2 separate regions of the Homo sapiens genome follow, and region 1 is linked to region 2. Evidence: fine-mapped expression QTL. Tissue or cell type: whole blood. Region 2 holds a variant in brackets; the other region holds the start of a gene. All regions are shown on one strand. Distances are between the middles of the regions.

Region 1 (4,000 bases), 51 kb before region 2:
TAAAGGAGATGTTACAAAATATAGCAAGGTGAATAAAGGAAATATATTGGAGTTTGGGTTGACAGGGCTTGGATCAATGATTAAAGGGAGTGGATGAAGGAGTCAGGTATAATGTGTTGATTTCTGGCTTGGGCAACCAGGTGGATGGTGGCGCCATTCGCTAATACAGGCAATACAAAAGGAATAGTAGGTTTAAGGAGGGAAATGACGAGTTCAGTTTTGGAGATTTTTAGTTTGAGGTGCCTTGGGATGTGGAGGCATCCCATGGGTACTAGGATATACACCTCCGGGTTTAGGAGATAGGCTCAGGTCACAGGCAGACTGGGAAGCATCAACATATTAACTAATAACTGAAGTCAAAGGAAGTGTGAGATGGGCCAGGGAAAATGGACAGAGGGAGGAGGTACAAGGCCAGAGCCCTGGGACACATTTAATGTCCAATATATTTTTTTTTGAGACAGGGTCTTGCTGTGTTGCTCAGGCTGGAGTGCAGTGGTGCAATCATGGCTCACCACAGCCTCAATCTCCTGGGCCCAAGTGATCCTCCCACCTCAGCCTCCTGAGTAGCTGAGACTACAGGTGCATGCCACCACACTCAGCTAATTTTTAAATTTTTTTTGTAGAGATAGGGTCTCACTACGTTGCTGTGTTTGGTCTTGAACTTTTCAGCTCAAGCCATCCTCCCACTTTGGCCTCCTAAAGTGCTGGAATTACAGGCATGAGCTACTGTGCCCATCAAGTGCCCAGTACATTTAAAAGCTGGGCGGAGGAAGAGGTCTGCAGAGGAGCCTGAGATCAAGCACCCTTAGGAGAAGAAACAAAAGTAGAGTCTGAAGTCACAGAAGCTGATGGAAGAGTATTTTTCAACAATGGGAGAGAACCAGTCAAGATTGAGATATGTGAGATTAGAAAGTGGAGTTATAGCTGGCCTTGGCTAAAGGCATTTCTGGGAGTGGAAGCCAGACTGGAAGAGGATAAGAAGTGGGTGGGGGAGAGCCGAGTATGAGCGACTCTTTCTGGTAAGTTGCTGCGACAGGAGATAATGCTGGGTAGGTGGAGAACACAGGGACCGGAGGAGCTGAGGCGGAAGGATGGAGAGGCTTAAGCATGTGTTAACTGCCACTGGGAAGAAGTCGGCAATCACGGAAGCTACCGGAGGGTAAGAAAAAATTCATTCATTCAACAGTTGAGCGCCTCCCACGCGCCCGATCAGTATGGCCGCCCCCACTTGAAAACACGCGTGTGGGCCGCCCACGTCTGACAAGTTAATGCAAGGCTTTATAGTTAGGGGAAAGCGGTTCTCCTTGAGCTCTTTCTCCTAGCAGTTCCGATTCCGACCCTGACTCCAACAGACACCTTGCGGGAACGCAAACACCGCTCGAATTCATGACCCCAATAGAAAACTTAAGGCCGCAACTAAGTAACGGATCGCTGCGAAGGCCAAACTAGCCACGCCAACGCCCCCACTGGAGCCTCCCCAGCGCTCCGCCCCCGCTCGCGAGAACAGCGGCGACGGCGCGAGAAATCGCTTTCTGGTTAGCTCCGCCCCTTCCCTTTCTTTGTTTTCCTGTCCGACGATCTCGCGGGAGTTAGGCGACAAATCCCGCGAGCGCAGACCCGGGGCTGGCTCTGCTGCTCTCGCGATATTTGCGCGAGCCTGCTTCCTTCTTTCCTCCCTTGCCAGTCCGCCTGTCTTCCTCCCCGTCTTCCCTGCCCGGCCTCCCCCTTCTTCCCCCGCTGGCCCCCTCCCCGGAGGGATAATATGGTCTCCGGCGATGGACGCCCCAAAAGCAGGTCAGTTTCGGGCCTCCGAGCTGGGTCTGGCAGTTGGAAACGCGCGCTGCCTAGGCGCCGAATTCCTTGCTTTTCTCGCCTGGAGTCGCTCGGCAGGCGCCCAGGCCCTCGGGGCTCGGGTTGTGCTCCCCTCGGGGCCTGCCTGCTGGGCCGCCCTTTGAGCCTAGGCCGCGGAAGCTGGGGCTCCCGATCCCCACCCTCCTGCGCGACACCCGCAGGGCGGGCCACCCCACCGCTGGCCTTGACCCGCACCCCTCTCTCTCCGGTGGCCGCTGCCTGCTGCCAGCGGCTTCCTGGCCCCCGTCAGCAACACCAGGGGCAGGGAGAGGCCCACCGTCTTCTCCTGCCCGCCCCCCATTGGCGAGCGATGAAGGCGGGGGCCTGCGTCTCCGTGTTCGGGTCTCACGCAGCTAGATGTTGATTCCACGGTCCAGCCTAAGGCCCCTCAGTCTCTCTGTGCCTCTGGAAGCCGAATGAGGGGCAGTCAAGGTTGAACATTGGTCAGTCAGTTCTCCGACCATTTATTGCACCGCTGTCTCCTCCCCCGTCCACCTCCCTCTACAAAAAAAAAAAAAGAGAAAAAAATACTATTCATTCTGAAAATGGGCTGTGCTTATGTTTTCTCCTTTTGGATGAAAGCCTTAACAATGTTGAGGGTCCTGGCCACCCACCGCTATGAGTCTGCACAAAAGATCTGAAGGTTCTTTTCAACCTCAGGGCTGCCTCCCCGCCACTGCCCCCTAGAATGTTGGGAGCTGAGGCACGTTTAAATGAGACCTCTGGATCTTTGACTTAGTAGTTCAGCTTCAGTTCGTGCAAAACCAGAAGACTTGTCTCTTTCGGGTAGAATATGCTAATTTCCTAGAGATTCTGTTACTTTTATTTTCAGTACTAAGCCCTGGTAAGGACTTAACTGAGAAGTTTTTTTGTTTTGGTTTATTGAATGCTCTGTAAAAATCCGTCTTTTAGTTTTTTTTTTTAATCAGTCCCTCTAATGTTAATTGTGGAATTCACAAATTCCTGTCTCTGCAGTTTTCAAGACATGTCTTTCCAAAACGTCCCCGTGGATTATTTAAATCATTCTTATTGTCCCTTTCCAGGTATTCTTATCACATTTCAGGAGTGAATTATCTTACTAGTTTTTACTTGACAAATTATGGTTTAGAACTATGCTTTCCAGTGTGGTGGATACTAGCCCTGTGTGACTTTAAATTAATCAAAATTAAATAAATTAAAAATTCAGTTCCTCAGGCACGATAGCCACATTTCAGGTGCTCAATAGCCACACGTTGCTAATGGCTACTTTACTGGACAGCTCAAACATAGAATATTTTTACCATTGCAGAAAATTCTATTGGATAAAGCTAGTTTCCAGGTATTTTCAGCTGAATAAAATATTTTGTTGCTGCATTTAATGAAAATACAATTTTTTTTTCAGGATACGCCTTTGAGTACCTTATTGAAACATTAAATGACAGTTCACATAAGAAGTTCTTCGATGTATCTAAACTTGGCACCAAGTATGGTAATGTTGCTTTACATTTTCTTGGGTTTGTTTAGTCTCTAATAATGAAAATGCATTTGTCAAGCTGAGCTGAAGAAATTTTAAATGTATTTCCACCGTATTGTAACAGGTACACCTACACATACCTATACCATTTTAAAAACTCCTCCTGGGACAACTTCTGTTCAGGGAAGATGTAGGCCCACACCTTAACTTCTCATTTAAAAATCTAAGTTAATTAAGCACTAGTTTTTCCCCTCAAAGAAACCAATAATGCAGTTTTCAAACTTTTTTTTTTCTTGTTTTTGTGAAGACAGGGGTCTTGCTATGTTACCCAGGCTAGTTTTGAACCCCTGGGCCCAAATAATCCTCCCACCTCTGCCTCCCCAAGTTTTGGGATTACACATGTAAGCTACTGCGCCTGGCCTAATGTGATTTTTAGAAGAACCTGACTGACTGATGATAATTCTACACCAATTAAATGTATATTTTATTTTCTCTTTTCTTTTCTTTTTTTTTTTGAGACAGAGTCTTGCTCTGTTGCCCAGGCTAGAGCACAGTGTTGTGATCATAGCTCATACAGCCTTGAACTCCTGGGCTAAAGCAGTCCTGCCTCTGCCTCCCAAGTAACAAGGCCTACAGGTGTATGCCAACACATTTATATAAAAACATATTTTTATATTTTTTGTAGAGTTGGGGTCT
Region 2 (4,262 bases):
GTGATAGAAATACAAGATAAGACTTGTCCTTTCTCTATAAATGTTGTGATGTGCTATTCAGTCACTTTTTTTTTGAAATGCAGATTTGAAATCGTTGGCTATGGATGTTCAATTTGTGTGGGAAATACAGCACCCTTATCAGACGCAGTTTTAAATGCAGTAAAACAGGTAAAATGTGTGGATTGGCAAGACATCTAAATGATTTTCTTAACTATGTTTTGTTACTAAATTATAGAAAATATATATTGATGTGTTTATATTTCTGTAAACTCTGCACCTCTTGGCAATAGTAACCTGTGAATCTTTAAATGATTCAATGAATCATTTGTAGATCCTTGAAATAATTCCTTCATAATACAAGGAATTGATTTAGTTTATTTGCAAGATGCATAGTTCTATATTTAAAAATTAGTAATATGTTTTTTGGTTAATCTCGCCCTCAGACTTTAAGATTGCTTATATATGATTATCCAGATTTGTACCATCTCTAGAATTGAATTTATTTGTTTGTGTGTTTGTGTTTTTTTCAGGGTGATTTGGTTACCTGTGGAATTTTATCTGGAAACAAAAATTTTGAAGGTCGTCTTTGTGATTGTGTTCGTGCCAATTATCTTGCCTCTCCACCCTTAGTGGTAGCTTATGCCATAGCAGGCACAGTGAATATAGATTTCCAGACAGAACCTTTAGGTATCTTTTCCTTTATGTATATGTATACCTACACATACTTTTCCCAATGGAAGTCGTTATATTTTTGAAATGTTTCTTAGACCATCTATTCTTTGAATTATTTCAGGAAGACGTATGATAATGTATAGTTATTAATTTCTGTGTTTATGTGAAGAAAATAAAATGTACAGGTAATTAGTTCTTCCAGCCGCTTAAGCCTGAAGCACCCTGTTGAATCATTTACTTGATTTCCATGATATGTCTTTGAAAAGGTATGAACATTTTCAGAGTTATTTTTTTACTGAGTATCATGTTCAAAAATTTTAACCAGGTACTGACCCCACCGGCAAGAACATTTACCTGCATGATATTTGGCCTAGTCGAGAAGAAGTTCATCGAGTAGAGGAAGAACATGTTATACTATCCATGTTTAAAGCATTAAAAGATAAAATAGAAGTAAGAGTCTTATGTGTTTCTTAAATAGTTTAATCAATTTGCAGTGTTCTTTTATTTCATATATCTTCTGAATAGAATAAAAATTAAAATTACATTATTTTGAATACAGTTTTTAATGTGTAATAGTAAGTTTGTATCTGGAATCTGTAGTTAAAAAGAAAATGGCGGCTGGGCACAGTGGCTCACGCCTGTAATCCCGACACTTTGGGAGGCTGAAGCAGGTTGATCACGTGAGGTCCGGAGCTCAAGACCAGCCTGACCAACATGGAGAAACCGCATCTCTACTAAAAATACAAAACAATTAGCCAGGCTTGGTGGCGCATGCCTGTAATCCCAGCTACTCAGGAGGCTGAGGCAGGAGAATCACTTGAACCTGGGAGGCGGAGGTTGCGGTGATCCGAGATCGCGCCACTGCACTCCAGCCTGGGCAACAAGAGTGCAACTCTGTCTCAAAAAAAAAAAAAAAAGAAAGAAAATGTCTTAGAGGATCAGAATTCATTAGTGTTGATTGGATGATCTGTGCAGCAAACCACCATGGCACACATTTACCTATGTAACAAACCTGCACATCCCGCATATGTACCCCAGAAGTTAAAATAACAGTTGAGGGGGGAAAAGAAAGAATTGATTAGGTGTTCAGAATACATCATTGAACAAAACACAAAATTCTCCTGGGGAGAGGCAAATAAGCTGTAAAGAGAATAATTAGCTAAATTATGCAATATTTATTATTTTTTATTATTTATTTTTTGGTGTTTTTTGGGAGATGGCACCCCACTCTGTCACCCAGGCTGGAGTGCAGTGGCCTGAAGCAGCTCACTGCAGCCTTAACCTCCTGGACTCAAGCAATCCTGCTCCTCAGCCTCCTGAGTAGCTGGGGCCACAGGCGCTCACCATCAGGCCCAGCTAATTTTTTATTTTTTGTAAAATAAAAAATAAAAAATGCTCAGGCTGGTCTCAAACTCCTGGACTCAAGTGATCCGCCCACCTCAGCCTCCCAAAGTGTTGGGTTTACAGGCGTGAGCCACTGTGCCTGGCCTAAGAAATGGTGAGATTTTTGGCTGTAGTTTGAAGGCGTTGATGTGGAACAAATACATTGAAAAAGCAGAGGTTTTTCTCCATTATAACATTCTTAGACATTAACAGCATACCTCATACATGCTTAATCTCTCTGTAGCAACATATAGAAATCTTTCTAAATTCTTTAACTTT[T/G]TTGGACTCTGTGAAGTCTTTATGTTCTGTTTATATTGAAACTTGCCCCTTGGAGTGTTCCTGAACATCTGGTATGCTAGAATTTGAGGAGCAAATTTTTAATCATTCTGTCCAAAAACATCATGATTTTTTAGAACACACTGTTTTGGCTGGGCATGGTGGCTAATGCCTATAATCCCAACCCTCAGGGAGGCCAAGGCCCACGTATCGCTTGAGCTCAGGAGTTTAAGACCAGCCTGGGCAAAAATAAAAATTTAAAATTTTTTAAAAAAAAGAAAAGAATACACTCTTAATTTTCTTTCCAAATGGATAAGGCCTATTTTTGTTGTTGTTGTTGTGACCTAAGTACTATTTTATTCCCTTGATCATTTTCATGCGCCTCTTTTTCTGAGTCCTTTTATCTTTGCTTTGGTTCATCAACGAAAACTGTATTCACAGATGGGGAATAAACGGTGGAATTCCTTAGAAGCACCGGATTCAGTTTTGTTTCCATGGGACTTAAAGTCTACTTATATCAGATGCCCTTCATTTTTTGATAAACTTGTAAGTACTGTTTTACTATTTGATCTTTTAAAGATTGTTATAAACTAAGAAGTCTTGTAAAGAGTTAAATGCCTTGAACTTTTACCTTCTAGACCAAAGAGCCAATTGCACTCCAGGCTATTGAAAATGCCCATGTCTTATTATATTTGGGAGACTCTGTCACAACAGATCATATATCACCTGCAGGAAGTATCGCTAGGAATAGTGCTGCCGCTAAGTATTTGACAAACAGAGGGTATGTGTACATGGCTTTAGAGTGTTTTTGTTTTTTCTTGTTTCTTACTGATTAAGAGGCTTCTATTGGTCTTGTTCCTTTTTTCCAGTAAATACATGCTATCGTAGGTAATCTGACTGCCAATGTGTTTGTCTTAAGCAAGAATGGAGAGTGGCGGGGTGGGGAGGCGGGGGGTACCTTCTGTACTTGTCTTTGCTTGTGACTTTAGAAAATGAAATTGCAATTTTAAATTGAGCCCTTATAGTCTAAATAAACAGCTGATTGGAAATAAGATTTTTCTTTTTCAGTGCTACTTTATTGAAAAGTCAGCTTGGTTTTACCTACCAAATGAAGCCTGCTCATTTGGTTAAAACCAGCTTCCCATTATTGGAGTAAGGAATTTAAATGTGTATTTTATGGGCTATAACATGTACGTGTGTGAGGCTGGGAATGATATGTACAAATCAAAAGACAATGAATTTCTGCTTCATGAGCCTAAAATTTTATAGGAACAATAAACGTAAAGGCCATTTATATTGGAGATATAAATTTAAAACTGGTAAGATTTCATTTCTACATGATTAATCATGTAGAGTTGCCCTGTTATCAAAGGACTGTTTTGACAATAGAGACAAAGTTTTGTTAAAAGCAGGATTTGTAGTACTGCTACCTGATTAGCTTATTGGATGCTTGTTTGATGCTTGAGTAATTAAAATGACAAGCTTTTTCATTGAAATTTATTTATTTATGTATGTATTTATTTATGTATTTATTTTTGAGACAGACTCACTCTGTCACCCAGGCTGGAGTGCAGTGGTGTGATCTCAGCTCACTGCCACCTCTGCATCCCGGGTTCAAGCAATTCTCCTACCTCAGCCTCCCAACTAGCTGGGATTACAGGCACGCGCCACCATGCCCAGCAAGTTTTTATATTTTTAGTAGAGACAGGGTTTCACCATGTTGGTCAGGCTGGTATCAAACTCCTGACCAAGTGATCCGCCCACCTCGGCCCCCCAAATTGCTGGGATTACAGGCATGAGCAACCGTGCCCAGCCAAAATGTCAATGTAGCTTGTGTTGACATGTGATAATATTGCACAGCTTTTATTATAAAGTGGTGAGAAATAAGTTTCCTTTCCTGTAAATATTTTTTTGGTTGTGATTTCCATCTT

The links. PIP is the estimated chance that this variant, and not a neighbour inherited with it, causes the effect.
Region 1: it holds the start of IREB2, and the variant in region 2 is fine-mapped to the expression of IREB2 in whole blood (TOPMed, PIP above 0.99).

What each region holds. Positions count from the first base shown.
Region 1 is chr15:78,436,563-78,440,562 of GRCh38, forward strand. It overlaps IREB2 (iron responsive element binding protein 2), which reads left to right and starts at 1,654. Exons shown (of 22, transcript NM_004136.4): 1 at 1,654-1,794; 2 at 3,233-3,319. The coding sequence starts at 1,776. RefSeq lists enhancers at 1,189-1,268, 1,339-1,398 and a silencer at 1,869-2,108.
Region 2 is chr15:78,487,650-78,491,911 of GRCh38, forward strand. IREB2 (iron responsive element binding protein 2) reads left to right here. Exons shown (of 22, transcript NM_004136.4): 14 at 84-168; 15 at 531-687; 16 at 998-1,122; 17 at 2,773-2,877; 18 at 2,970-3,112. Among named protein-coding and RNA genes, the nearest start is that of HYKK, 18 kb to the right of the region's middle. The variant T/G (reference allele first, on the strand shown) is at 2,335.